Linked DNA regions of Homo sapiens. The protein of the gene in region 4 interacts with the protein of the main gene of each other region in a pairwise test. Each region holds a gene or a part of one and is shown on either strand. Other genes may lie near its edges. The genes, in order: SLC41A1, PAQR5, TRAM1L1 and ERGIC3.

Region 1 (7,026 bases), on a different chromosome or scaffold from region 4:
CCCACCAAGAGTGCACAAGGGTTCCAATCTCCACATGCTTTTTTCTTTTCTTGAGACGGAGTCTTGCTCTGTCACCCAGGCTGGAGTGCAGTGGCACTGTCTCGGCTCACTGCAACCTCCAACTCCCAAGTTCAAGCAATTCTTCTGCCTCAGCCTCCCCAGTAGCTGGGATTACAGGTGTGCGCCACCATTCCCGGCTAATTTTTGTATTTTTAGTAGAAACAGGGTTTCACTATGTTTGCCAGGCTGGTCTCCAACTCCTGACCTCAAGTGATCCACTTTCCTTGGCCTCCCAAAGTGCTGGGATTACAGGCATGAGCCACTATGCCCAGCCCAAACTCTACATCCTTGCTAACACTGATTATTTTCTGGGTTTTTAAATAGTAACCATCCTAATGAGTGTGAGGTGATCTCTTACTAATCTACAGTATTGCTCAACTTTATTTTATCTATTTTATTTTATTTTATTTTATTTTATTTTATTTTATTTTATTTTATTTTTGAGACAGAGTTTCACTCTTATTGCCCAGGCTGGAGTGCAGTGGTGCGATCTTGGCTCACTGCAACCTCCACCTCTTGGGTTCAAGCGATTCTCCTGCCTCAGCCTCCCGAGTAGCTTGGGATTACAAGCATGTGCCACCACGACCAGCTAATTTTTGTATTTTCAGTAGAGACGGGGTTTCTCCATGTTGGTCAGGCTGGTCTCAAACTCCTGGCCTCAGGTGATCTGCCCGCCTCGGCCTCCCAAAGTGCTGGGATTATAGGTGTGAGCCGCTGCGCTCGGCCACTGCTCATCTTTAACGACAGAGTGTGGGTGTTGGAATTGCCTTGAAAGACCATCTGATCTGGTCCCTGAATTGAACATTTTTCAAGAGCTTGAGGCCCTTGTAACTTGTCTAAGGTGTCCAGCCGGTCTACGTGAGGAGGTGTACTGGGGAGATAAGCAGGGGGCCATCCCTGCTGTCTCCTGTAGGAGACCCAAGGCTCTTGGTCCAGTGCCCTTGCCAAACATAGTGCTTGGCCTCCCAGCCATGATACGCAGACCAACCCATATATATCCGCCTGGCCTCCTGCCTCCTCCTCCCTCTCCAAACCTGGAGGCTTTCCATTCTTAAAACAAATAAAAGAAACCACCTACCCTGTTAGGGCCAGGGAGGGAGACACAATCCTAAACCTTTTTGCAAGTCCTCAGTTTCAATTGCAAGTAAAGTAGCTTTCAAATAGCCAGTCCTGGTTCCTGCAGTCCTCTTAGCACTAACTAGTGGAATACTGTCTGAACCCCAGTTTACTCATTCACAAAATGAGAATAAAAATAGCCCCTACCTTACTGGGTTGTTAAGATGATTAAAAGAGAAAATACATGGAGAGCACTTAGCCTAGCACACAATCAGTCCTTAATAGATGTTAACCAAAGACATTGGTAGGAGAGCCAGGATTGATTGTCTTGGGACTAGAACTCAGGTCTCCTGACTCCCGGTCCAGGGCTCTTCCTACAGGAGTACACTTGCTTCTCCTAGCTGAGAGATTGAGGAAGGTGTGTGGGGGTAAGGCAGTGCACAGAGAAATAAAAAGCCTCTTGCAGGCCAGCATTCAGAGGTTTAGGGGCCACAGTCTTAATTCAGAGCCTGTTCAGAAGGAGAGTTGCTGTGGCTGAGGCCCAAAGCCCTTGGAGATAGAAACCAAACAAACTCTCTAATCTCCCCAGCCTCGGCCCCAGCCCTGTGGAGCCCAACTCTTCACAGCTGAGACAACAGAGAAACTGGACTGAAGGCAAAGGGGCCAGGGATTGCAATTTGAGGGGGGATTGCAAAGGATTTCTGGGGTGTCAGGCAGCCCAGGGCAGCTCAGCTGTGTGGGTCCCCATTACCCTTCCCCACCCACCTCCAGGAAAACAGAAAAGGTAGGGCCAGACTGAGAGTCTCCCAACCGGCAGAAACCCTCTCCATCTCCCTGGTTCTGGGTGGCAGGAAGGGGGGTTGTGTTGTTTGAAGAATCATGGGCTTGGTTTGGTTCCAAGGTTCTTGGAGGAAAGGTGGCTGGCGTGCTCACTCCCTGCTGATTCTATTTCCTCCTCGAGCCCCTGATCTCAGACTACCTGTTGAACCTCAATGCCCGCCCTTTGGGGCACTGAAATTCCTGGGTTCTGTTTTCACCTCGTAGCACTGGGAAGTCTTCCAGAAGGTGACAGAGGTCTTCATCCTAGTGCCTGCGCTGCTGGGGCTCAAAGGGAACCTGGAAATGACCCTGGCATCAAGGCTTTCCACTGCAGTGAGTATCCTGGCTGGGAGGAGTGGGGCACAGAGAGGACTCTGGGCAGCACAGAGCCAGAGACTGGGAGAGGGCTACGAGCCCTTCTCCACTGCCCAGGCCTGGAGTGTGGGGCTGGGGTGGGAAGGGAGGGCCTGGCTGGGCAGGTGTAGGGAGATCCCAGGCTGGGTGTCCTGCTCCTGGGCAGGGGCTCCCTGCCCAAAGTGGTTCCCAGGCTTGGTTTCTGGATGTCCCAGCCACCCCTGGACTCCTGCCCCACCCCCTACCTCTCAACCACCTCGTGACTGTTTGTGCAGCTTTGACAGGCAGGCATCATGCTGGTTCCTCCACCCGCACAGATGGGGGCCTCCTCTGATCTCCAGCCCCTGCTTTGCAGCTGGGCGGGAGCAGAGCCAGGCCCTCCCAGCACCCCCAGCCCCCCGGCCATCCCATTCCCTTTACCCATGGCAGCTTGCTCTTCTTTAAGGAAACAGACAGAGAGGAGCTGCTCGTCATTCCTACCTCCCACAGTTGTGAGCCGTGACGATTCCGGGCCTGAACAGATACAGGGCCCTGGGCTGGAGGTGGGAGATGATAAAACTCAGGAGGCCAGGGATCTCCCTGCAGGGTCAAGAGTCTAGAGAAGGTGACAGACAGAAGTGGCATCCAAGTTAACCCACCCTGACTTGCCATACCCGACTTCTGGCCCATGCCACCCACTCCTTCCCAAATACTCTTGGAGCCTCAGTCCTGCACCAGCAGCTGACCTTTCCTTCCCTGGGATCGCAGGCTGGCTTCAGAGTCAGGGACTGGGTTGTTCTGACCCATGCAGGAATGGGCTGCCCAGATAAGCAGGGCAAAGGATAGAATTTGCCTCTGCTCAGCTGGTGTCCTGAGAGGAAGAGAGGCGACTGCCTAGGGGACCCCCTTCCAACCCCCCACCCAGCTGCAGGAGCCCAGCTTTAGCTCCTTCCCTTTCACCTCAGTTTCCCTGATCCTGCTTCACCTTTCCGGGACTGTCAGGTCCTGCTCTCAGAGTCTTAGGCCACATGTACTGCCTCATGATCTAGGCAGGAGCCTAATGGATGGAGCTTCAGGCCTTTTCCAGCCTGAAGCTCCAGCCCCTTGCCCTCCCTTTCCCAGGCCAACATTGGACACATGGACACACCCAAGGAGCTCTGGCGGATGATCACTGGGAACATGGCCCTCATCCAGGTAAGAAGGCAGGGACCAGAGAGGGTGGGCTAAGCTTCCCCTTAGTCAGGAATCTCTGAAAGGCTTAGGTCAGCCCCAGCAGGCTCCTGAGTGAATCTCCAGTATCCCACTGAGCTGGCTTCCCCCAGAGTAGCTCTAGGAGGTAACTAGGTTACCCAGGAAAACGCCCAAGATGAGGAGGGCCCAGCATCACCCATTCTGGTTCTCAGTTCTTGGTGGTGCACGTGCCTTTGAGTCCCAGCAGATCCTGGCAATATGAGCAGACTCAGGAGTGCTGAGATGTCCTGTGCCACTGCTGTCCCATCTCCCCATGAGACCACACAGGTTCAGACTGGGAGCCTTCCCCCTTGAGGCCCAGGCCTTGACTCTGGGTGGAAGTCTCCGGCTCTGTTGAACCTCACTCCCATCCCCAGAGGCACACTCATTCAGCCAGTAACATGTTCTGGGCTCCTGCAGAGTGCACTGCCCAGTACTAGTGGCTGGTGTGAACCTAAATAAATAAAGACATCCTTCCAGCCTGGGAGGACTGGACCATGCAGTCCAGCCTGCCTCCTGGGGCTACTGCCAGCCAGGAAGAGGTCTGCCCAGATGCTTATGACCTCAGCTTAGGAAGCCCACTGCTCTCAGGGCTTTCTGAGTTACCACTCCTGTCCCCAGGTGCAGGCCACGGTGGTGGGCTTCCTGGCGTCCATCGCAGCCGTCGTCTTTGGCTGGATCCCTGATGGCCACTTCAGTATTCCGCACGCCTTCCTGCTCTGTGCTAGCAGCGTGGCCACAGCCTTCATTGCCTCCCTGGTACTGGGTAAGAAAGGGAGGGCATAGAGGAGTAAGGAGTGCCGCCCCAGAGAACACTGCACCTGGCACTTCCACTCTCTCTTTTTGTTTGTTGAGACTCCTTTATCTCTTCTCACCCTGCCTGCCCCTCCTCCCACTTGCTCACCAGGTATGATCATGATTGGAGTCATCATTGGCTCTCGCAAGATTGGGATCAACCCAGACAACGTGGCCACACCCATTGCTGCCAGCCTGGGCGACCTCATCACCTTGGCGCTGCTCTCAGGCATCAGCTGGGGACTCTACCTGGAACTGAGTGAGCCACCAAGAGTGTGGCTTCTTGGAGTCCTGGGTGGGGTTGGGAGAGATGGTAGTAGTTTGCAAATGTGCAAGAGTTTCTTCTGTGTTCTTAAACTATTTGGTTTGAACACAGGTTGTAATAATTCCTGATCTTAGAGATTTGAAGCTAAGTACTGATCTCAAATTCAAGCAGGCATCAGGGGCAGGGGAAAAGTATCAGAAGTATATTCCTGTGTGGTCCTGCAGATTCTTACTTCTCTTGGAGGGATGAGGTGGAAAGGGTAAAGGAAAGGAACCAGAGGCTTAGATCTGCTTGCAAAATGAAGAAGCGGGTGGGAGATGGTGTTTTCTGGGCTCCAATCAAGAGACCTAGAGTCTCTGTCCTCTGGTCTCTGTCCCTAATTGGCTCAGTGCCTGGCTAGCTCTCTCCCTTGGTTTCCTCATCCATAAAATGGAAAAGGCTTGTCCCACCTACCTCCTGAGCTGCCAGTGAAGATCAAATGGGATAATGTGTTTACTGGCATTTAGTGTAGTCTTGCTATTGATCTGTTGGGACATTTTCAGGCTGAGCCAGGGAGAAACTTAGGGTAGGGAAACACAGTGCTTATCTCCTTCTGACCTCTGCCCTCTCAGATCACTGGCGATACATCTACCCACTGGTGTGTGCTTTCTTTGTGGCCCTGCTGCCTGTCTGGGTGGTGCTGGCCCGACGAAGTCCAGCCACAAGGGAGGTGTTGTACTCGGGCTGGGAGCCTGTTATCATTGCCATGGCCATCAGCAGGTAGGCTGGGGCCCTGAGTATCCACTCCTACCCCACTCCAACCCTTCCACAGACTTCTTTTTAAACCCTGGAGAGATGGGGTGGGGGTCAGACCCTAGAAATGTGTTCATTAGTGTTTCAGTCACATGTCCTTCTGTTGAAAATGACAGAAACCATCTGAACTGGGTTTCATTCCAAGGCAGAATGTATTGGCCTGGAGAACCAAAAAGGCACAGCTGAATTCAGCGACATACCTAAGATCAGGGCCCCAGTACTCTGTGACTCTTAGCTCTGCTCTTCTCTGTCATGGCCTACAGCCCAGGTTTATGCTTTTCTTACTCCTACAAATTCCAGTGGGAAGAGAGATTCTTCCCCCAACAGTTCCACAAAGTCCCAGAATAGAGTTCCACTGCTTCTCATCTGGTGACATGATTATCTCCAAACCAGTCAGCGTGGCCTTGGGGCTGCAATCCTCTGATTGGATGGACCTGGAGCCTAGCTATCATTGAGGCATTGTCACCTGAGCCACAGTCACTGAGCTTGAGAGAGGTGGTTCCCTGTGGAGGAGCCCAGTGCTATCACCAGAAAGGGAAGTAAATGCTGAGTGGGCAGAACAACAGAGGTCCTCAGAGGCAGATAGTCCTGCAGGCTGCTCCTCCGGCCAACTTAGAGGGCAGGTACAGGAGGTGGTTGCCTGACCCAGTACCACCAGCTTGTTCTGGAGTCACTGTGCCCAGTCAGAATGTTATGAGCAGCACCTAATCCTGTCAAGGGAGGCAAGGACTGGATGGTGAGGAACTCCTGAGAGCCATGGTGCTTCCCTTCATCTCCAAGGATAGGTGGGCCTGGACCTCTCATCCCAGAGACTAAGGCAGAACCCTTCAGTGGTCTTTGCGTCATTTTGTCTTTATGTCTCTATAGTGTGGGAGGCCTCATCTTGGACAAGACTGTCTCAGACCCCAACTTTGCTGGGATGGCTGTCTTCACGCCTGTGATTAATGGTGAGGTCTGGGCATCAGCTATCAGAGGGCAGGGCTGGGGGAAGGAAAGGGACAGGAGAAGAGGACTTAAGGGGTTGGTTTCTGTATCAGTCAGGGTTCCAGCAGACGAGAATCTAGCTCAGATGGTTCAAGACCTTAATGAAGGGACTGCTTACAGAGGTGGGAGCAGAGTAAAAGGACAGATAAGGGATGTTGAGGCACCGAGAGATTAGCAGCAATGGGAAGCCTCTACTCCTAAAGGGTCAAGGGGAGTATCATAGTCCATTATCTGTTGCTAGAACAGAATACTTGAAACTGGCTAATTTATAACGAAAAGAAGTTTATTTAGCTCACAGTTCTGGAAGCTGGGAAGTTCAAGATTGAGCAGCTGCTTCTAGTGAGGGCCTCATGCTGCATCCAAACATCCAAATGGAGAAACAGAAGGAAAACTGGGCATGTGCAAAATGGGCAAAACAAGAGAGGCAAACCTCGCTTTATGACAACCCACTCTCATGGGAACTATACCTTTCCCAAGAAAGACATTAATCCATCTTAATAACCTATTCACTCTTAAAGGCACCACCTCCCACCACCACATTTGGGGACCAAGCCACAACATGAGTTTTGTTGGGGACAAACTATATTCAAACCATAGTAACGAGGGAATAGCATTATAGGAGTCCAGTGAAAGCTCTGTCTTTGCCCCCAACATGGGGAAGCCAATGCTGAAAAGCAGGGAGGGATTGGGAA
Region 2 (6,891 bases), on a different chromosome or scaffold from region 4:
TCTTGAGATGAGCTCATCCTGACTCCAGTGACTGCTGTTCTACAGAGACGAGAGGACACAGACACACAGAGACAGCATGTGAAGACAGGCAAGATTGTGTGATGCTGCCACGAGCCCAGGGATGCTGGGAACCAGAAGCTGGAAGAGACAAGGAAGGATTCTCCCTCTCAGGGTTATTGTGGTGACCACAGAATGCATTTGGAAGTGGCTTTGTAAACTGCAGAGTGATAAGCCAATTCAATATTTGGAGTTGTGTTTTATCTTCCAAAGGCCTCAGTAAACATTTGTAGAACTGACCAGTGTTGGATTGGGCATGGTGTCTCTTCACAGCCATGGGCAGAGGGACCATAAACGTAGGGGGCAGGGATGGGCAGCGGTCAGAGGGAGCCATGGAAGCTTCAGAGGGAGCACAACTCTGCAATGCCCCGACTTGGGACTTCTGGCCTCCAGGACTGAGAGTAAATAGTTGTCGTTTGAAGGTGCTGTGCATGATAATTTGTCACGGCAACACTGGGAAACCACTGGCAACATGGACCCCTTATCTGGATACAGTGGCAGAAAAGAAAGCTCTGCAAGAAGTTCCCGTAAAGCATGTCCTTGCCCTTAGTGCCCATTTCCTCCTCTGTCAAATGAGGCAAATACTTCCAGCCCTGATGAGATAATGGCCTCATCAGCAGGGCAACTCTGACGGTGTGGGTGAGGCTGTTCTAGGTTTCGCGCTGCCAGGCAGCGCCTCTCTCCTAGCCTCCGTTTTCTCATCTGCCAAGTGGGGCAGTAAGCCCTGCCCTGGTGACTCCATTGCCAAGGAGAGGGGAGGCGTGAGCGGACTTATGGATTGGGGTAGAGTTGGGTGCCAGGGGGCTGAGAACACATGTGAGGGACCTGAATCTTGCCATATTAACTAAGGGCGATGGTTTCTGTAGTACCGTTTCTGCTATCCAACAAGGCCTTGTAAACAAATATAACGTCTGGGCCCACCCAGGAGGAGCTGGTGAGTGCCTGAGGAGTAGATGGCCAGTGGGGATGGGTGAAGAACACATAGAATAGTGACATCTGATATGGCGCCCCTTGAACACACAGGCAAAGGAAGAGATGGGGCATTTTGAGTCACATGGATTGGGGTAGGACTGTTTCCCCCCAAAAAGGCTTTTTGAGTTATGTTGTAAAGATGTCAGAGGGAGACTCACATTTAAGACTGAAGCTCTCCTTCCTTCACACCCTTGCCAGGACTCCCTCTGACCACCCCAATCCCTGCCCCCCTCCGTTTGTGGTCCCTCTGCCCATTGCCATGAGGAGAGTGTCCAATCCAATATCAGTCAGTTCCACAAATGTTTACTGAGCCCTTTGGAAAATAAAACACAACTCCAAATATTAAATTTACTTAGCACTCTGCAGTTTACAGAGCACTTCCAAATGCATTCTGTGGTCACTACAATAACCCTGAAAGGAAAAAAAGATGATTATCTCTCACTCCACAAAAAAGAAACTGAGGGTCAGAGAAGAGAGACAACTTGCTCAAGGCCATTTGATTGGAGGTTGCCTGACTCCTGGAGCTGCTCTTCCCCGTCTCCTTGCTGCCTTGCTGTCATGTCACCTGCTGTCTCACTGGGTCATTTGGGCGTGTGCCCCTCGCACGCCTGTATCTTCCCAACTGGTGTCAGCTCGAAACCCTCTGTGGTCTGCAGTGCTCAGCCTGGCTTTCCAGGTCTGGGCAGCTCCCTCCTTCCAGATCCTGCCTGTGATTCCAGCTCCTTTCCCTTGCTGTACAAAGTTCCCACCTCTGCACTTTGCCTCACTCTTTCTTCCTGCCCACTGGTACGTATCCCAGTCCTTCCCACACTTCAGGTCTCCCTCGGCTGCACAGGAGGCTCAAATCCAGCATAGATTCCTGAAGTCCTGGGTCCAAGTTCTAGCTCTGCTACTGACTTCTTGTGACTGTGTGACCTTGGGCAGGTCACTTTCCCTCTCTGGGCCTCCATTTCATCACTATGAAATAGGAGTGTTGAACACAATACTCTAAATGCATCTCCATGTGGTCTAAGTACCCCCCTCCCCGGCCCCTCCCTGCCCTTCCCCCTCCTCTGATCATCCTGTGTGCTCACCATCCACAATCCCCTCTCCTGGCTCCACATCATTCTCCAAAGGGTTCATGTTCAATCATTCAGTTAGACTTTAAACTCCCTAAGAGCAGAGGAGGGTGATTTTGGCCAAGATATGCAGATCGATTCATCAGTAATCCACTGACCACCTCCATTTAGGTTGGGAGCCTCTTTATCTTCCCTCTTTAGTTTCTTCAAGGTGCACACACAGATACCTACAGCAGGCAGGAATCCAGGTGGGGCACCAGGCATCTCTGCTCACCTTGGCTGCTGGTGGTGGGGTGCCTGCCTGTGCTGTGCATGCTGCAGCTTTGGCAGGGTGGCCAATCAGTCCAGTGCCAGCCTTTGCCTCCCAGAGAATGCTTCACACCCTATTCTTCCCCCAAACCCATCACTGGCCCAGACATCAAAAGCACACATCCCTGTGCTATTCCCCTTCAAAGAGCTTCATATCTAATATCTCACTGAGTCCCCCGACTAGCCTTGGAAAGGCAAAGCAGGGATTATTAATCTCCATTTTGTAGATGGTGAGGGTCTTGTCCAAGGCTACTCTGAATTCAGCATAGAGCTGGGACTGGGCTCCACTCTTGTGTCCAGTCATTCTTGTCAAACTCTGGTCTGTGGAATATACATGCCTGCCTCTGTGTAGGCCCCAGTCTCTTTCCCTTTAAGAACTTGGGTCTGAGAGGACAAGCGCATGTCGCACGCACACACACACGCACATGCATACACACCCTTACAAGATGCACAGCCACCAAAAAGCCTAATAAAGCAAGGTGCCCAAGACCACGGTTCAGGATCCGTAAAAATGGCCGGAGATAATTGACTGCAACCTATTCACTGCAAATGGGGCAACTTGGGCCCACAAAGGGCCAGAGACTTGACCCGAGTCACAGAGTAGACTAGAGCCCAGGTCTCTGGACTCCCAGTCCTGTGCTCTCTCCACTGTGTGTGCCCTCAGCAAACAAGGCAAGGCAGGGAGGAGCAGGAGCTCAGAGAGCCTGGGGCTGAAGGGTGGGAGGAAAGAGCCTGGTGGGGGACTTCGGTCCACAGGTGTGGATGTTCCAACCTTTCTCTGGCAGGGTCGGGGTGGGGGCACCAGGTAGCTGCAACCTGTTCCTTCAGCACCTGGGAGGAGACACAGAGTCTGGTTCCCTGAAGCCAAATGTTTCTTCTTTGTCCTCTGTGTCCCTTCATCTCTTATAGCTGTGTCCACTGAGTGGCAGAGGTCCAGGCCCAGCGCCTTCCAGTCTAGGAGCCTGTGACCTGGGACAGGATCCCTGGGGAAAGGGTGAGGGCTGGCAAAGGGCCCGCCACCCTGAGCACTCCAAGAGACAGGGGTGGAACTCACTTCAAGGATTCAGGGCGGCGAGGATCCTCTCCCACCGGCGAAGCGGACACCGCGGTGGGGCTGCGAGTACCCAGTTGTTGTTTTTTTCTCCTTCCCTGTTCTCCACCCCATGCACTTTTCCGAGGGGCAAGCTCCGCAGTTCTCCCATCAAGGAGGCTCTCCAGGCTCCCTGCCGGCCTTCGGCTCCTGGGGTGGAGGTGGGCGTGGGGTACATGGGCCCTAGGAGAATGGGGTGTGAGAGACTCCCCTGGGCTTATGGCTTTGGTGGCACCTCAGGCTGTGGAATGGGGTGGCGAGTCTTTGGAAGTCACAGAGCCCAGGGTCGGTGGCACGTGATGAGGCGCAGGCCTGGCTCAGGGGGTGGTGCCCACGGCCCTCGGCTCCTCCCCCGGGGCCGCCCCGCCCCGCGCGGGAGGGGACGGGCGGGGACCGGCATGGGTAGGCGCGGCGACCCGCAGGGCCAGGTGCAGGGCCCGCGAGTCCGGGGTCGCCGCAGCCCGGGAGGAGTGTCTGGTCTCCGGCCTGCCTGTGCTGTCCCCGCGCCCTGTCCACTGGACTCCCGAGACCCTTGGAACCCAGGTAACCCGGGGCGGGACTCCCCGCCGCGCGCCGCCTCCCCACCTCCCGGTCCACGCGCACCCGCCCTCCGCGGCAGCCCCAGCCGCCCTGCGCCCGTGGAGCCCGTTGAGCCTGGGTGGCCGCTCCGAGGGCGGGTCTGGGAAAGTTTGTGCCGGGGCGGCCCTGATCCGGCGGCGGCGCGGCTCGGCCACTTTCACCGCACGCGGGGCCGGTGTGAAGGTGGGGCGGCCGCCGCCGTGCAGAAGGCTCTCTGCTGCAATCGAGGGCGGTGAGGGGAGCTGTTGCCTTCTCGCACCTTTTCTCTCACTCTCCAGGGCGTTTGCGCCGCTTATCCTTCCTCCACCGCCCCCCTCCCGCCGCCCCCACTTTAATAAAACCCTTGGATTGGGGCTGCACAGTTGGCGATTTCTTTACACCTGTGCTTCCCGCCTCCTGAGCCCAGATGTGAGCCTGGGCTGAGCAGGACCGTGTGGGTGAGGGGCGGCCCACTGCCTGCGGGGGTCGTCCCGGCCCTGTTGAAGTGGGTGCCCAGCTACAGGGAGTTCCCCCTGCTCTGTCATTGGCCTCCCCCCGGCCACAGCCCCCAGCTGGGCATCTCCTGGCTCCCCTAGCACTTCCCAAGTCCTAGTCGGATGAGCCCAGGAGAGGGGGTGGACCCCGGCCCAGCAGAACAAGAACTCAGGAGCCCGGTAACTCTTATCCGTGAGCAGAACCGGCTTCCTCCCGCTTAGGTTGGGAGGAGGGCTCAGCTTAGTGGGAGTCGGGGGTGACAACTGCCCCTTCCCACGCAGAGCCATAGAGAAGAGATGGGGAGAGGTCAGGGGATCTGAGAAGAGCTAGCAGCCAAAAAGGGACACATCCCTGATTTCATTTGAACCTAACAAACCAATGGCGAGTAGATATTAACACATGGGCAGATGAGAAGACAAGGAGGCCCAACAAAGCTCAGCCATTTGCTGGAGAAACTGGTGGGCTTTTCTCCACCACTGAGTGGCGGGTTTCCCACCGCATCCTTCCAGAGCTGCATGGTCGCTTCTGCATTCTTGCAGTGCCCTTGACTCAGCAGAGGTTTGTTTCTTTTACCCCACTCCCCACCCCCCTAGGTTCTGCCTGTGAAAGAGGTTCAGGGGAGAGGGCACCTCCAAGCAGACACAAACTCCAGTCAGTAAGGTCCTCCAAGAGCCAGCCAGAGCCTTGCTAAGCTCCCAGAACTGCAGGAGGGCAGGGACCTGCTTTGTTCCCTGCAGGGACCTGCTTTGTTCCCTGCCGTAGCAATAGTACCTGGCACACGGAAGGTGCTCTGCGAGAATGGAATGATTAGCCTGCAACAGCAAAGCTTCTTTTCCAACTGCCTTATCTCTGCCCTTGGCAAGCAGAAAGGGCACTCTGAAAAGTTGGATCAGAAAGGTGTCCAGCCCCACCACTGAGATCCCTTGGCACCCTTACCCACGTGGGGCAACATTTTCCCCTTACACCAAGAGTACATCCTTAATCCCGTATGCTTTTCTTTCTTTCTCTTTCTTTCTTTCTTTCCTTCTTTCTTTCTTTCTTTCTTTCTTTCTTTCTTTCTTTCTTTCTTTCTTTCTTTCTTTCTTTTCTTTCTTTCTTTCATTCTTTCTCTTCCTTCCTCCCTCCCTCTCTCTCTCTCTTTCTTTCTTTCTTTCTTTCTTTCTTTCTTTCTTTCTTTCTTTCATTCTTTCTCTTCCTTCCTCCCTCCCTCTCTCTCTCTCTTTCTTTCTTTCTTTCCTTCTTTCCTTCCTTCCTTCCTTCCTTCCTTTAGTTCGTTTTCTTTCTTTCTTTCTTTCTTTCTTTCTTTCTTTCTTTCTTTCTTTCTTTCTTCCTTCCTTCCTTCCTTCCTTTCTCTCTCTCTCTCTCTCTCTCTCTTTCTTTCCTTCTTTCTTTCTTTCTTTCTTTCTTTCTTTCTTTCTTTCTTTCTTTCTTTCTTTCTTTCTTTCTTCTTTCTTTTTGACTGAGTCTTGCTCTATTACCCAGGCTAGAGTGCAAGGGCGAGATCTCAGCTAACTGCAACCTCCGCCTCCCGGGTTCAAGCAATTCTCTTGCCTCAGCCTCCCGAGTAGCTGGGATTACAGGCGCCTGCCACCAAACACAGCTAATTTTTGCATTTTTAGTAGAGACAGGGTTTCACCATGTTGGCCAGGTTGGTCTCGAACTGCTAACATCAGATGACCCACCCGGGTTGGCCTCCCAAAGTGCTGGGATTGCAGGCGTGAGCCACTGCACCCAGCCCCCATGTGCTTTTCCAGAGAGACAGAGGACTTTCACTTTACCCTTGTCCCGCCAAGGAGAGGCCGAGGCTGGTGGGTTCCATGCCAAGCTTGGCTCTACCCTAGACTGAGGCAGAGCAACTTTGTCCCTTTACGTAGAATTCTTATGCATCCCTCTGGGGGTAAGAATTGGAATTGGAATTATTTGGAAACTTTAATCTTCATTGTCTCCTCTCTCTCCTTACCACTCCATGGGGCAGCTATGTATTGAGGGAAGAGAAGGTGCTTTTCTGGGCCTCAATTTCCTCATCTGTAAAATGAGAGCAACAGACCCTGTGTGGTTTTAGGAGATAGTAAGTGGTTCCAAAGGACTCTGTGGGCTGCAAATCAAACTGTAAGAGCGGATTGTTATTTTCTCATGTGTATTAGCCTGGCCTCCCTGGTTGGCGGTAAGTCCTTTCTCAGCATCTTGGCATCCCTCATTCATCCTGAGTACACAGAAGGTTTACAAGACATGTTTTCAAAAATGATCCGTACAGGAAGAGAAAAATTGTGAATTCATAAGAAATGGGGGGAGATTTTTTTTTTTTTTTTTTTTTTTTTTTTTTTTTTTTTAGCACAGTGTTAGGAGTCAAGA
Region 3 (7,507 bases), on a different chromosome or scaffold from region 4:
GTAGGAGAAAATATAACGGAATAGGAAATATATGGCCTTCCCCTAGCATATTTGTAAAGTACTGTCTTACTGAAAAATTATATAAACACATTATGGAAATAAAACTGAAATAAGGATTGAGAGGCAATACGTATAAATACTCACCCACTAATTCCCATTGTTTCCATTGGCTTCTGCAAAGATACAGATTATACATACATGTGTATGTAAATAATCTTCAAAATATGTCTTATACAGATAAATGTTCCCCAATTAAAGATGAAGACAAATAATCACAACATTATTTTTCAAAAGCCTTTCATGTGACTATCTGATTTTCAACTTATTGAAGGTTGATGCATAACATGCTTTCCAAATGTAATTAGCTGACTTTTTTTATACACATGCCAAGTATTATTTTTCAACCTGGTATACAAACAATATTTTTCTAAGATGCTGTGGTTACTGATCTTACAAGGCCTCATTAGGAATCATTTTTAATAAACATTTTTAAAAAAGACTAAGTTCAATGTCCTTTTTAAAGTAATATTTAATTTCATGAATTCCCATTTACAAGTGGAATGGACAGGAATGATTTTAATATTTTTATATTAATTAATGATATTTTGATGCAATATATATGGCAGCAAACCTCCATATGTGTTACCCATTAGTACTGTGTTTTTTTAAATGGGGATGAAGCACTAATAATCACTACCTGTAAAATAAAGAACATTTATTATTTTGGTGAGTCTAGCAATCTTTTCTGAGTTGTAAGTTCTTAAAAAATAAATTCTAACAATTACAGAATACTGATTTGACTTCCACCTTTTTCGTACTTTTATTTTACCCCAAAGCAAGCATTAAACACATAATCTTGCTAGGAGAGACCATCTTGTTAGTATTATGAAACACTGGTGGGAGTAAGAACCAGTATCATTGATATGCAAAATTGTGCAGTTATCTCTGCAAATCATTAGGAAAATGTTGAAAGGTTAAAAATCAAAACAAAATATAGTGGTGATCCCCAAAACTATTTTGACATTATTTTGACGATGAGTAATTTAGTCTCAACCAAAATCTTTTTTTCCCATTCATAATAATCCTCCTCCCCTCAAATGTCTTTAAAAAATACATGAAACAGTTCAATAACAAAAACCGAAGAGCACGAACTATTTTCAAAAACAGAAAAATCTCTAGTGCAGAAAGAAACCTCAAAGAGCAGATTCCTTTGCAGACATTAATCAATGCGCTTGCAAAGATTATGAAGATTTCTCTTTCCTCTTTGGCGGACAGTCTACTCTATTTGAAGTTTCCACTCCCACTCCGTTTTCTGTTCTTTTTTTAGAAGATCTCGACCGTTTCTTTTTCATACATGAGGCCTGAATATTAGAATCTTCTACCCACCTCTGAAGCCAGAGAGTAATTAAGTTCCATGTTACGTAGGCTTGGATCGTGCAACTGGACGACAGAACAGCAATTTTAGCTGCCAACACATTTACATTTCCAGTAAGGGCATCAGGATTCCGATTCTGCGATCCAGCCAGGTGAAACCCAACAGTGAGTACGGAAACAATTAAAGTCACAAGTCTACCCAAGATAAACACAATGGCCCACAGAGATATGCCTTTCTGGTACTTTTCATCACTAAAGTAAAACAGGCCGCACATGTGGGAAAGTAATTCAACAAAATAATGCAGTACCAAAAGAAGAAGTCCCAAATGATTCAAGTACAAGAGATAAGCTCCAGTAATGTGGAAGAGGTGAAGACCAATGTAGACAAGTTGACGAGGGATGTCTTGTTTTTTGGTTTTCTGGAAGTAGAGTTCAGGAAAAGCATGAAACCAGTAAGCCAACTGGGATATGTAGAAAAACTTCATTTGAAATGTCATCATGCTATGGGGACGAGCCTTCCATATAAGAGTTGGGTCTGACAGGCAGTTTTCAGAGATTAAAATGAATGTGCCCCAAATACAAGAAAAAAAGTAGAACACACTAAACTGACCAGACTCGTTAAACTTGTTTTGTTTCGCTTTGGTGAACTGCATTCTCTTGTTAATTTTATCCAACACATATTCCTGAATTGTGGCATGAATAATGATTGCCACCAGCATGTAGAAGAAAACCGTGGCCAAATCTTTGACACCATAATAATAGAGGGACTTTGAGCCCGTGGCTTGTTCCTCTGCTGCAGGGACAGCAACACTGTGCTGAAGAGTGAGAAACACGATGGATGCTTCTGCTGTTCCCTCGAACACAAGCCCCAGCAGGAAGAACATCCCCACGCAGGAGACGATGTCCGCATGATTCTGCAGGATGAATTCCTGGCTGAGAACGGGGGGGTTCTTGGTGCTCTTCTTACGGAGCCCCATGGTGGCGCTTCCCGGATACTCACCGGCGAGCCGCAGCTGCCTCCCCCTGGCTGCTCCTCACAGCGCCGCCGCCACGGTAGCAGCTCCGGGGGCTCCACTTCCCATCCCGAAGTCAGTCCCGGGTCGCAGCGGCCGCCCAGAAAAAAAATAAATCAAAGGCGAGGGCCGAGCTGAGCTGAGCATGCGCACCAGGGGGACGGCGGAGGCAGGGAAGGAAATCGAGCGCCGCGCCCCTACCCGGCGCCAGGCCCGGGGTTGCGAGCGGTGATCTTCAACGTTGATCGTCGCATCTTCAAACTCGCTGCCACCGCCAAGATGCTCCTGAATTCTTTTTTTTAGTGGCATCTTCATTAGTAATCATGATAAACCTATAGAGCTCTGGTTATTCTTCAGATCATTAATTATAACAACAATAGCATAATAATAACAGCAAACTCCCAGTACTAATTACCAGTTGCTGTGCTAAGCATTTTATTTATATTTATGAATTTAACTTTCCTGAAACACCCAGTGAGGTAGATACTGTGATAATCTCCCCTCCCCCACCCCTTTTCAAGAGACAAAACACTGAGGCACAGAGAGGTTAAGTAATATGGCCAAATTCACCTCCCTAGTAAGGGTTAGAGCAAAGATTTAAATCCAGTCCGGCTCCAGAGCGCCTGTTTTTCACTATTACGCTGTATTGTCTCTTATTGTAAATCAATTATACCTGGAAATATTTACTAGGTCAACAAGATAGCATATTAAAACTAGTTCCCCTATTTGCAATAATAATAATGTTTGAAATGATAACGTCTAGCCAGTATTTTGAAAGACTGGCACTTAGAGGGAGAGATGTATTAGTTCATGGAAAGGTCTCTTTTTGGCTACAAAGCTCAAAACTTAATTTCTTCATTATAACAGAAAAGAACCTCATATGTCATTTGTGTAGGTTTTGCATATATGGAGGAATTGTGAATTGAAGTTTCCCAAGACTTCACGTAGGATTTGGAAACTTTCAAGACTGGAACAGCCAGAAAGTAGAATCCTCATTGAACACTTGCAACATTCAGACAAGATCCAAGGAAAGCTACACTGTTTTAAGTAAGGCTAAACTTGCCCTAAGGATAAAGCTAATTCATGCTTATAAACACAAAGTTTATAAGAAGCCTTGAAAAGGTTAAGGTACTCTAGGACTGTCTACCAGAATGCCTACTTATGGCCTCTAGGTGCATTGTTGGCATTAGCATGAAAGGGTGGCTTAATGCTCCAAAAGTGGGATTTCTAGCAAGCAAGACAGAAAGTAAATGGCCTTTTATGACCTAGTATTAGAAGTTATATTATATAATTTTCAATACCAAGGTAGGCACAAGCCTGTTTTACTTCAAGGTGGAGTGAGGATGGAGGGGAGGGTGTGGACCATACACATCAACTTTTAATGAGAAATGTACCTAGTATTTGCTAATTTTTTAAAAATAGCCACATCCTTTCCGTTGGGAATAAATTTTGTTTCCTCTGACATGAAATATACACTTTTTCCTTCCAATGCAAACAATAGTCTCATATCAATATAGCATCAGGTTCAGGCTTCTTACACAGGATATTTTTGTAAGCTAAATCAGATCCAGGAGCAGATAAAGGAAAGTCCTATCCTTTGTTGTACTTACTCTTGGTCTGAAGACTTGTGAACTAAAAGAATAAAGTTTTTGGCTCCCACACACCCAAAGCGTAGGAAAAATGCAACAGACACTTCCATCTACGAGTGAGAAAATGGATGCACACAGCAGTCAATAATCAATAATAACTATAAGATACATCCAGGTAAAGTTCCTAGATTTTGGTTTGAGTCCAATCTTCCTTTCTAGGAAATGGTGAAAGATTTTTTTCCCTAAAACATGGATTAAATATTATAAGTTGATTTGTTTCTGTATGTTGGCTTGCATATATTAAAAGATAAAAGACACTAGAAGCCAAATAGTGTTAACGTAATACTGTTTATCTTTGTCTTTGTCATGTAATAGTCATTGATTATAGAATTAATTCTGGAGTATTAATTACACATTAATACTTCAAGGAATTAACGTTGAATAAACAAGTTTACAGGTGGAATCAACAGAACAACATATGAATCAGTTTCTGATTATCCTCAATCTTTCTTGGTCTCATGTATTCAGACGATTGCCAGGCATTGGTCGAATTATCTATTTAAAATGCTATATTGATTTTGTTATAAGAAACATTTGATTTAAAAATATCAATAAAAGTTCTCACGATAGTTAAGGTACTGTATTTCAAATAGGTGTTAATAATTAGTTCTTGCTGTTAGCTATGCAATACAACCTTTTGATGTCTGTATTTTATAACTCAATATTATTTATATGAATAGCTTAGCTATAAAAAGCTCTTTTAAATTAGTTATGTGTCTTTTAAAATAATTACCTTAAAATATAAACTGACATTGATTCTGATTTTGCTAAAATAGTAAAGTACAGAAGAAACATTATAATATAGAGGTAGCCTCACTTTTCAATATTTTTATATCTAAGAATAATATATATGTGTATATCTCTATAATACCAACCTTTTAATAATTTAAATTTGGATTATTCAATTACTTGAATTGAACATTAATATTCCAGAATTCAGTTGCATTTGAAGAAGCAAGAAATGTTGCTTTGAACTTCAAAATATCAGACCCAAGTCTGATTTTTAAATCGATGTTTATAATTAACATTTATAATTGACTGAGCTCACCAAATGCTTAGCTCAATTAAGCAAAAAAATACAGTTTATCTTGTGCATGAAATTACAAAGTCTCTTGGGATTTGATTGACTTAAAGTTTTAAATAATTTAATTAAAGATATATTTATTATTTTAAAGTCATTTTTGTAATTGATAAGACATGTTAAAACATGAGCTTTTAGAAGAACACACCCTATGCAATATGGCTAAATATTTATCGTAATAAGGAAAACTCAACATAATATTTACAGCTTTTAGAATACTTATTTGCCCATGGATTTATTAGTAACATACCAAGAAAAAATATGAAGCACTATCTAAGGATAAACTCCTGGAACAGGTTAATAGTGTCAGTCTCCCACTAAAATGTAAGAATTCATAAAATTAAAATCAATATTTAGTAATTTATTTTTTCAATTGCCCCTTTTATGGGTGAAAATAAACCTTATACCCATCCTCATGGAGCTTACATAATAATCAGGGAGAACTAGAGGACACAAACAGTACAAATATGTGTTTGCAAATAGCCAGTGAAAATTGCTGGGAAGAAAATGTGGATAAGAAGATGAAGCATAAATGATGATAACTATTTTAGGTAGAGTGGGCAGGGACAGCCTCTCTAAATAGGTGATATTTGAATAGAGATGTACATGAAGTTAAAGTAAACTATACAAATGTCTGGAGGGAAACATCCTAGGACGTAGTTCAAACGTTACCAGGCAAGAGCAAGAATGATTGTCGCATGAACAGCAAAGGGGCCAGGATGACAAGAATGTAGTAAGGGAGAGGGATGATTGATAAAGTAACAGAGATCATTAGGGGGCATTTCTTATAATGCCTGTAGGCCAGGGTTAAGGAATTTAAAGTTTGGTCTAAGGTCTAAACATTGTAAGTATTGTGTTAATGGATTACTTCAGCTTTTGTGAGATATACTATTTGTGGAAGCTGCAAAACTACAAAAAGGCCGTTGTATAAATTGTAATTTGCAAACATTACACTGAACTGTTGTATTTTTTATTGTATTTTTTAAAACAGTCTCTCTCTCGTCTCTCTTTGTTTATATAAAATATTTCTTTGGTTGCTGCCTGTGAAGTAACTGATGTGGAATATTCCTCTGATTCTACTACTCTTCCAAAATTTCAGTTGTATAATATATATGGCATGACATATGACAGAAAAACCACCTTATACATTTTTTTTACATGAAAAAACAATGCTGCTGTGTTTCTATTTGGTGTCTAGTAGGAACGTTAAATTGCAGCTTGATGATGTCTTCAAAAAATCTACTTCCTCCTTGATGGAATCACTGCCTCCCTAATGATTCATATGGAATTTCAAATTTTTCTTAACTCACTAAGGGTGTATATATACACTTACACAAAAAATGAAAACCAAATGAAAAATAAAGAAAAGATCATTTTAGCATTATTTTTGTAATATCCTTATATATCAGTGCTAATATAGATGAAAACATCAATAGTATTTTAACTCTTTTATCAACTTTCTGACCAAAACAATCCAACTTTAATAAACTACCCATACAGATAAAAATTATTTTAATTCTCATTGGAAATGCCTGTATTCCCTAGTTTTACAGAGAAAAAATGATTCTTACAGTTATTTGAATCCTTGACAGATTCTCCCTCAAGGTGTGATGATGTAGACCTACCTAAGGGTCACACAACACCAGAGCTATTTTAGTGTTTCCCTAAAGGTAAACTTCCATTGAAATTTTTTACTTCTAACATACTTGTATTTTAATCTTTGAATCTGTGCTTTAAAACATATGCTCAGAGACTAATAATCCTTATACATAGCTAGTTTATATGATTCATTTAGATAGTCTGGAAATAAAGCATGTGTTTCTCTTTAATTGCTTGGAAATTAATAAGTATTAGAAATATTAAAAATTAAATTATAATTGCCCAAATATTTTTGGCACACTTTAAACAGATGAGTATTTTATACTGTCCTTTCTCTATTTTTTTTGTGACAGAGTCTCGCTCTGTCACCAGGTTGGAGTGCAGTGGCGCAATCTCAGCTAACTGCAACCTCTGCCTCCCGAGTTCCAGCGATTCTCCTGCCTCAACCTCCCTAGGAGCTGGGACTACAGGTGCGCACCACCATGCTCAGCTAATTTTTGTATTTTTAGTAGAGACTGGGTCTCACCATGTTGGCCAGGATGGTCCCGATCTCTTGATCTCTTGATCCACCCCCCTCGGCCTCCCAAAGTGCTGGGATTGCAGGCATGAGCCACAGTGCCTGGCCTATACTATCCTTTCTCTTAATGTTAAAGACCTTTATCATTGGCTGGGCGCAATGGCTCACATGTGTAATCCCAGCATTTTAGGAGGCTGAGACAGGAGGATTCCTTGAAGCCAGGAGTTTGACACCAGCCTAGGCAAGAAAGCAAGCCCCCATCACAATAAAAAAT
Region 4 (6,083 bases):
CTACTTTCGCACCTCAGTGTTCAGTTTTGCTTCCATCTAGACTGCAGAGGACCTGGAGGGATTCCTCTCTGCAGTGAGAGCCAGCGTGGGGTTTGGCACAGAGTGGGATCAGTGAGTGTGACAGGATCAGGTGTATTGAGCCCAGGGTGGCGGAGAGCGGCCCCAGCTTTACCCATCAATGAAGAAGTGGCAAGCCCCAATATGCACTCAGGGCCCTGAATTAGTGGCCTGGGGTTGATCACTCATGAGCCTGGGGGCCATGGTGGCTCCAGGAAGCTCACGCTGAAAAGGTCCATCTGAGCCCTGGGGCTGAACCCGAGAGGCCTGAGGACCACAGTGGAGGAGGGACCCAGGACAGGGCTGTGGGCTGGACATGAACCTGGTTTGAATAAACCCCGGTTAACTAGGGGATGCCCATGTGGGGCTCCCGAGGGCTCTGGGCCCCGATCTGTCAGTCACAATTGCCTTCAATGAGTGGCCAGGATGAGGCTCTGGCCATGGCAAGGATCACACGGAGACCAGTGAGTACTATCACAATCAATCAATAGATTTATCAACCTGGGGCTGGGGCTGACCGAGGAGGTGGAGGGTGGCAGAGGCTGGGGGACAACCACAGGCCAGGGAGAAAGAGGAGACAGAGGAAGCACCGAGGGTGACTACGTTGTCTTCCCTAGATCAATTTTCTTCTGGATGGCTCGTGCTGAGTGGTAGATGAGCGAATCGATGAGTCCAGCCACTGGGAGAGAGACAAGGGCTGGCACTGGCCCAGTGGGGGCCTTGGCTTTTGACGCTGAGAGCCTTGTCACTTAACTGGCCAGGCCAGCATCTGCCCCTTCACCCCCAACCAAACCTGGGGCACCCAGGCTTTACCCTCCCCACCCCACAGCTCACAGACGCCCTGGGCCTCTTACCTGTGAACATGCCCCCAATGATGGCGCACACACCTGTCAGGAAGTGGGTGAAGGACCTGGTAGAAGGAGAGGGTGGGCTCAGCAGGCATCCTCCTCCCTCAGGCCCAGGCCCCCAGAGGCCGCTTTGCCCCCATCCTCACCTGTGCTTCTCCGTCAGCTTCACCATCATGGGCGAGAGCTCATAGAGGACGAAGACTCCGGGAAGGCCTTGGTCGCCCAACAGCCCATTGGCAACCTTCTCATGTCTGGTCACAGAGAACTGATTTGTCCTCAGTACCTGGGGTGGGAGGGGAGCCTGGGCCAGGGCTAGGGCTAGGACCTGGCTCCAGCCACCATCAGCCCCACCCCTGCTCCTTCCCCTTTCCTGTTGAGCCTTGGCCGTGTAAGGAGAGAACACAGCACCGTGCTAGTGGCCTGCACTGCAAGGCCTGGCCCGCCAGACCCCCTCTCCTAGTCTTGGCCTCAGCCTTCCCCTCCAGGTGCCAAGTCTTTACAGTTTACCTATCCTGGCAGCATTTGGTGGGTGTTCTCACGGGGGTCCAGGCTGAGAAGCAGCTCTCCAAAGACGCACCAAGGCTGACCTGACTTCCTCTGCCCTCAGCCCCTCGCATCCTGCCACTCTGCTGAGATGCTGCTCCACAGGCCAGGGCAGCCTTGGGAGCGGGTACACAGAGACTTGCCTTGCCTAACCCCCAGCCCAGGCAGACCACAGAGAACAGTGAGGCAGGCAGACGGTGGGCACCGGAGGAACGGATAGAAGCGGTGAGGGCAGCAGAAAGAGCAGGCGCTTTAAATCTAACAGCCCCAGGCCTGCACTCTGCCTGGGAGGGCAAATCCCCCACCCTCTCTGTGCCTCAGTCTTTTATTCGCCATGTGAGGACGAGGCAGCTTTCACTCCCCAGGCTGACGGAACGAAATGCAGGAACTCCAGTGCTTGGCACCGCGCAGGAGACTCTGGTAGGGAGCTCCCTGACTCACCTCTCCGTCCACCTTCATGTACACAGTGGGCACCACCTTCACAAAGTACTGGAACATCATGGAGGCTGAGGGGAAAACAAAGCACTGGGTATGGGTGCCCGGCCGGCCTTCTGCGGCTGGGGGCTGCCTCCCGGGCTGGTACCTTGGGGCGCAGTGACATTGGTGTGGTCCAGGGGGTTCACAATGCCTGGATAGTCCTCCCCAAATGACAGGTGCTGGATGTAGTGGGTCATGTTGATCTGTAAACAACACCATCCAGAGCTCATCCAAAGCTCTGATGACAGTAGCAGACAGGGACACCTGGGTCCGTCTGCGGAGATGTGGGAGGAAGGGGAGGCTATGGTCCTAAGGGGACAACCTCCCCGAGATAAGAATCCCCCATTCCCTGCCTAGAAACTCCTCCTTCCACAGCCTGCAAACTCCTGGGGTTCCAGATTTTTCTTTTTTTTTTTTTTTTTTGAGACAAGGTCTCACTCTGTTGCCCAGGCTGGAGAGCAGTGGCATGATCTTGGCTCACTGCAGCCTCGCCTTATTCAAGCGATTCTCTTGCCTCAGCCTCCTGAGTAGCTGGGATTACAAGCATGAGCCACCATGCCTGGCCAGGTTCCAGATTTCTTAAAATACCAGCTTCACTTGTACGTTAGGCACACAGAGTAGCAGGTGCTGGCTTTGCCTGGAGGCCTAGGCTGGAGGCTGTGAACCCCCAGATACACTCCCTTCCTGCTCCCTTGTGTATCAGCCTCAGACACTAGAAGGATCTTTCCTAAAATGCAAATCTGATTATGTCGTGATCCTGCTTAAAGAAGGCCAACAGCTTTCCACTGTTCTCATGAGAAAGATGTGATTCCTCAGCGTGGCCTCTGAGTCCGGTGTGGTCTGGTCCCTGCCGACTTCTCCAGCCTCACCCATCCACACCTGCCCCGCAGTTCCTTAGAAGGGCCATGCTCCCGCCTGACCTTGCGCTGAGGCTCTGTCTGTCTAGGATGCTCTTATCCAACCCCAATCTTGCCCCTAGCCTGCTCAGAGTTCAGTTCAAAAGTCACTCTCGCTTAACCCTCAGGCTGGATCCCCATTCAGAACGTGGTGTATTTTTCCATATGCACTACCCCATCCCAGGATGTTCCTACAAGGAAATGAAGGCAGCAACCAAGCCTCCCACCCCCACCTGCCCTCCATGGTTTCCATCTGGTACGTACGTTGTCAAGGCCAAAGCTCTGCAAGTCATGGACTAGGAGAGAAGGGAGAAGGCAAGGGAGAAGGCGTCATTAGTAGGAGCAGCACTGGCCTCCTCCTTCCTCCCCCTGGACTGCAAACCACCTGTCTTCTCTGCCCCTCATTCCTTCTCCAGCCTGGCACCTCCTGGTCCTGCTTAAGGACAGCCAGAAAGGGCAAGCCTTGGGCCTGTGTGAGAGTTCACGCCCTCCTCAGGAGTCTTTAGAACAGACCCTGGTTCCTCCCTGACGTCCACAGGGAACTCTATGCCTTGACTACCACCATGGCCCTGCCTGCATCTCCGGAAACAAAACCCACCGACTATGGGCTCTCACTAACTAGAGCTGATGGCAAATCACTGAACCTCAAAGTGAGGTGGGATCTGAGAATGCCATCCACACTTTCCCTGCCTCCACCCTCAAAGCTCCCCAGAAGAAATCCCATGGGGACCCTGTACCAACTGTTCCAGAACAATTTATTCCTGCCCTCTAGCCTCAATCCCTCCTGCTGCAAGGAACCATACTTCAAAGATACATCCCAGACCTTTTACAGTCACCCAGCAGCCAGGTCAGAGGAGACCCAATCACAGCCCCATCCAACCTCCCCGCCATTCTAGTAGGGCAGGCTGCCCCAGAAGTAGGGGTTTGGCCTCCATGGGGGCAGGGCCACTTACTCTCCACAGCATGTACTGCAGCATGGGGGAGGGAGGAGAGAGAAGAAAGATTCAGAGCTTCACAATGAGAACTATGAGAGCAAGATATGTTGCAGGAGGGAAGACTGGAACATTCAGCCTCAGCAACACAGTCTGGCCCCAGCTAACAAGCCTCCTTCTGGGCCCCTCCTCGAGAGTGAACTAATCTGGCCAGAGAGGAGCAAAATAGTGGCCTAGAAGGACAAGAGGCCTAGAGCTCAAAGAGCCAAGTTCCTGACTGTGTGGCCTTGGGCAAATCAGTTGCCCTTTCTGGGCCTCAGTGTTCTCCTTTGCAAAGGGCTGTCCTAAGGATCACGTGGGATCTAAGATGGAAAAATACTTGTAAACTTTACACTGTAAGAGATTATTACCCACCCCAGCCCCAATCAACAAGGATGTTAGAAACTCACTCCCAGGCCTCAATTCAGCCAGATCTCTGGCCTTGGGCAACTGTACCTTTGCATTTATACATCCTTCCAAATACAGAGCACCCCCGGCCCGGGGATCCACAAGTCTAACAGTCCCAGGCCAAGAGGCTGCCACTCTGGCTGTGTGTCTACTGAGTGCCCGCCAGACCTTGTGCCAACAGCTTGACACTGATCATCTTCCTGCCCTCCCAGCAAGACCCTTTTCTCCCAGCTTCCTCCAGAGTGAAGAGGGGGTCCCAGAGCTCTGCAGGGTCCTCCAGCCCCCACACTGGCCCCTCCCCAACACAGCCCCACCCCCACAGATTGCCCTGAAGACCAGCAGAGCTACCCTCCAGGGGGCCCTTTCTTCCTGTTCACTTCAACCATTTTGAGAGGCCATCTTCATACCCTGGGCTCTGTCACTGTGCAGCTCTGTCCATCCTTTACTGTGACACCAACTCCCACCTTCCCCAACCCTGCCTTCAACCCCTGGGTTCCTCTTCACTTTCTTGCTTCAGCCTGGCTCTTCCTTTCAGGCACTAACTCCCTGGCATCCCCTCAACGTGCGACTATCTTCTCTCCATACACAACCTCTTCCCTGGCCTAAAGAGAAGTCTTTCTTGCTCCTTACTGCCACTTCCAGATCACTTTCCCTTTATCTGCCTTAAAAATGCACAATGGCTCACATCTGTAATCCCAACATTTTGGGGGGCCAAGCGGGAGGATCACTTGAGCCCAGGAGCCTGGGCAACATGGCAAGACCCTGTCTCTGCAAAAAAAAAAAAAAAAATTAGCCAGGCATGGTGGCATGTGCCTGTGGTCTCAGCTCCTTGAGAGGCTGAGGTGGGAGGATCTCGAGTCCAGGAGGTCAAGGCTGCAGTGAGCCAAGATTGTGCCATGGCACTCCAGCCTCAAAAAAAAAAAAAAAAAAAAAAAAAAAATCCCCAGCTTTGAAGCTCAGGGCAAAGCAGCCCTGCTTGTTTCAGTCACCTAGATATCGATATGGAACCTCCAGAACAGTTTTCCCATGCCATTTTTCAACAGCTTGGGCAACTGCCTGTCACTCTCTCCTGTACTACCTCTGTCACACGTTCTAGTGATTTCCATATCCACGTAGATGATCCTTCCAGTACCCGGGCCTCCCAGTTCCTGGACATCCTTTCCTCCCTGATCTTGTGCTCTGCCTACCCAAGCCACTTGCTCTGTTGGCCATTCCCTAAACTTTGTCATTAACAAAGCCCCTTCTGTGACTTCAATTTCAAGCAACTCATGCTCCACCAGCTTTCTAATTTCCTCCAGTTCCCCAATTCCAATAACTTGTTGACACTACACTCAGGACTTGTAGTCCCTTTTTCCTCCTGCCCCCTCACTGGCTTCTCCACATCCTGTCTTTCCTCCTTTCCTAGCTCATATGCTGTGGTCCAGAATCAAGATGAGTTCTTTACATATTTGACTCCCTCACCTTTGCAGGCACCTGGCAACACCAAACCCCATGCAATTGCAATGTTCTGTTGACTGAGTCCATTCCCACACAGACAACCATGCTGACCGCTCTCTTTGCATTCACAGCCGCGGACTCCAGGGAGGCCCTAGGGCTGCATCAATCCTACTCAATCTCCCCAGTCCACGCACTCTTCCACCCCCAAGTGACCAGTCACATCTTTTCTTCTTTCAAATCTCCAACACCTCCTTCCCTCTCTCCTCATTCTCAACTGAGGACCTTCCTTCCTACAACACGGAGAAGATGGGAAGACTCAGAAGAGACTCTCCATGTACTTCTGCCACACCAGCTACCACCCTACCTGTACCTACAGAGCCTGCCCTTCCTCCTGGTGCTAAGTTTGGACTTTCCACATATGTAAGGCACTAGATTCTGTCTTCTTT

Evidence for each region.
Region 1: the proteins of ERGIC3 (region 4) and SLC41A1 interact in binary tests that used the Homo sapiens proteins (3 or more experiments, as listed by UniProt).
Region 2: the proteins of ERGIC3 (region 4) and PAQR5 interact in binary tests that used the Homo sapiens proteins (3 or more experiments, as listed by UniProt).
Region 3: the proteins of ERGIC3 (region 4) and TRAM1L1 interact in binary tests that used the Homo sapiens proteins (3 or more experiments, as listed by UniProt).

The regions. Positions count from the first base shown.
Region 1 is NC_000001.11:205,796,195-205,803,220, reverse strand, and holds part of SLC41A1 (solute carrier family 41 member 1), read left to right. Parts: intron 1-2,160; coding exon 2,161-2,268; intron 2,269-3,390; coding exon 3,391-3,462; intron 3,463-4,119; coding exon 4,120-4,264; intron 4,265-4,405; coding exon 4,406-4,552; intron 4,553-5,169; coding exon 5,170-5,317; intron 5,318-6,217; coding exon 6,218-6,297; intron 6,298-7,026. UniProt on the Homo sapiens protein: Na(+)/Mg(2+) ion exchanger that acts as a predominant Mg(2+) efflux system at the plasma membrane.
Region 2 is NC_000015.10:69,295,028-69,301,918, forward strand, and holds the start of PAQR5 (membrane progestin receptor gamma), read left to right. Parts: upstream 1-3,884; 5' UTR 3,885-4,029; intron 4,030-6,891. UniProt on the Homo sapiens protein: Plasma membrane progesterone (P4) receptor coupled to G proteins. Seems to act through a G(i) mediated pathway. May be involved in oocyte maturation.
Region 3 is NC_000004.12:117,083,043-117,090,549, forward strand, and holds TRAM1L1 (translocating chain-associated membrane protein 1-like 1), read right to left. Parts: upstream 2,535-7,507; 5' UTR 2,352-2,534; coding exon 1,242-2,351; 3' UTR 512-1,241; downstream 1-511. UniProt on the Homo sapiens protein: Stimulatory or required for the translocation of secretory proteins across the ER membrane.
Region 4 is NC_000020.11:35,552,078-35,558,160, reverse strand, and holds the end of ERGIC3 (endoplasmic reticulum-Golgi intermediate compartment protein 3), read right to left. Parts: intron 3,790-6,083; coding exon of another isoform or gene 3,775-3,789; intron 3,118-3,774; coding exon 3,086-3,117; intron 2,129-3,085; coding exon 2,032-2,128; intron 1,955-2,031; coding exon 1,890-1,954; intron 1,189-1,889; coding exon 1,052-1,188; intron 968-1,051; coding exon 912-967; intron 737-911; coding exon 657-736; 3' UTR 527-656; downstream 1-526. UniProt on the Homo sapiens protein: Possible role in transport between endoplasmic reticulum and Golgi. Positively regulates trafficking of the secretory proteins SERPINA1/alpha1-antitrypsin and HP/haptoglobin.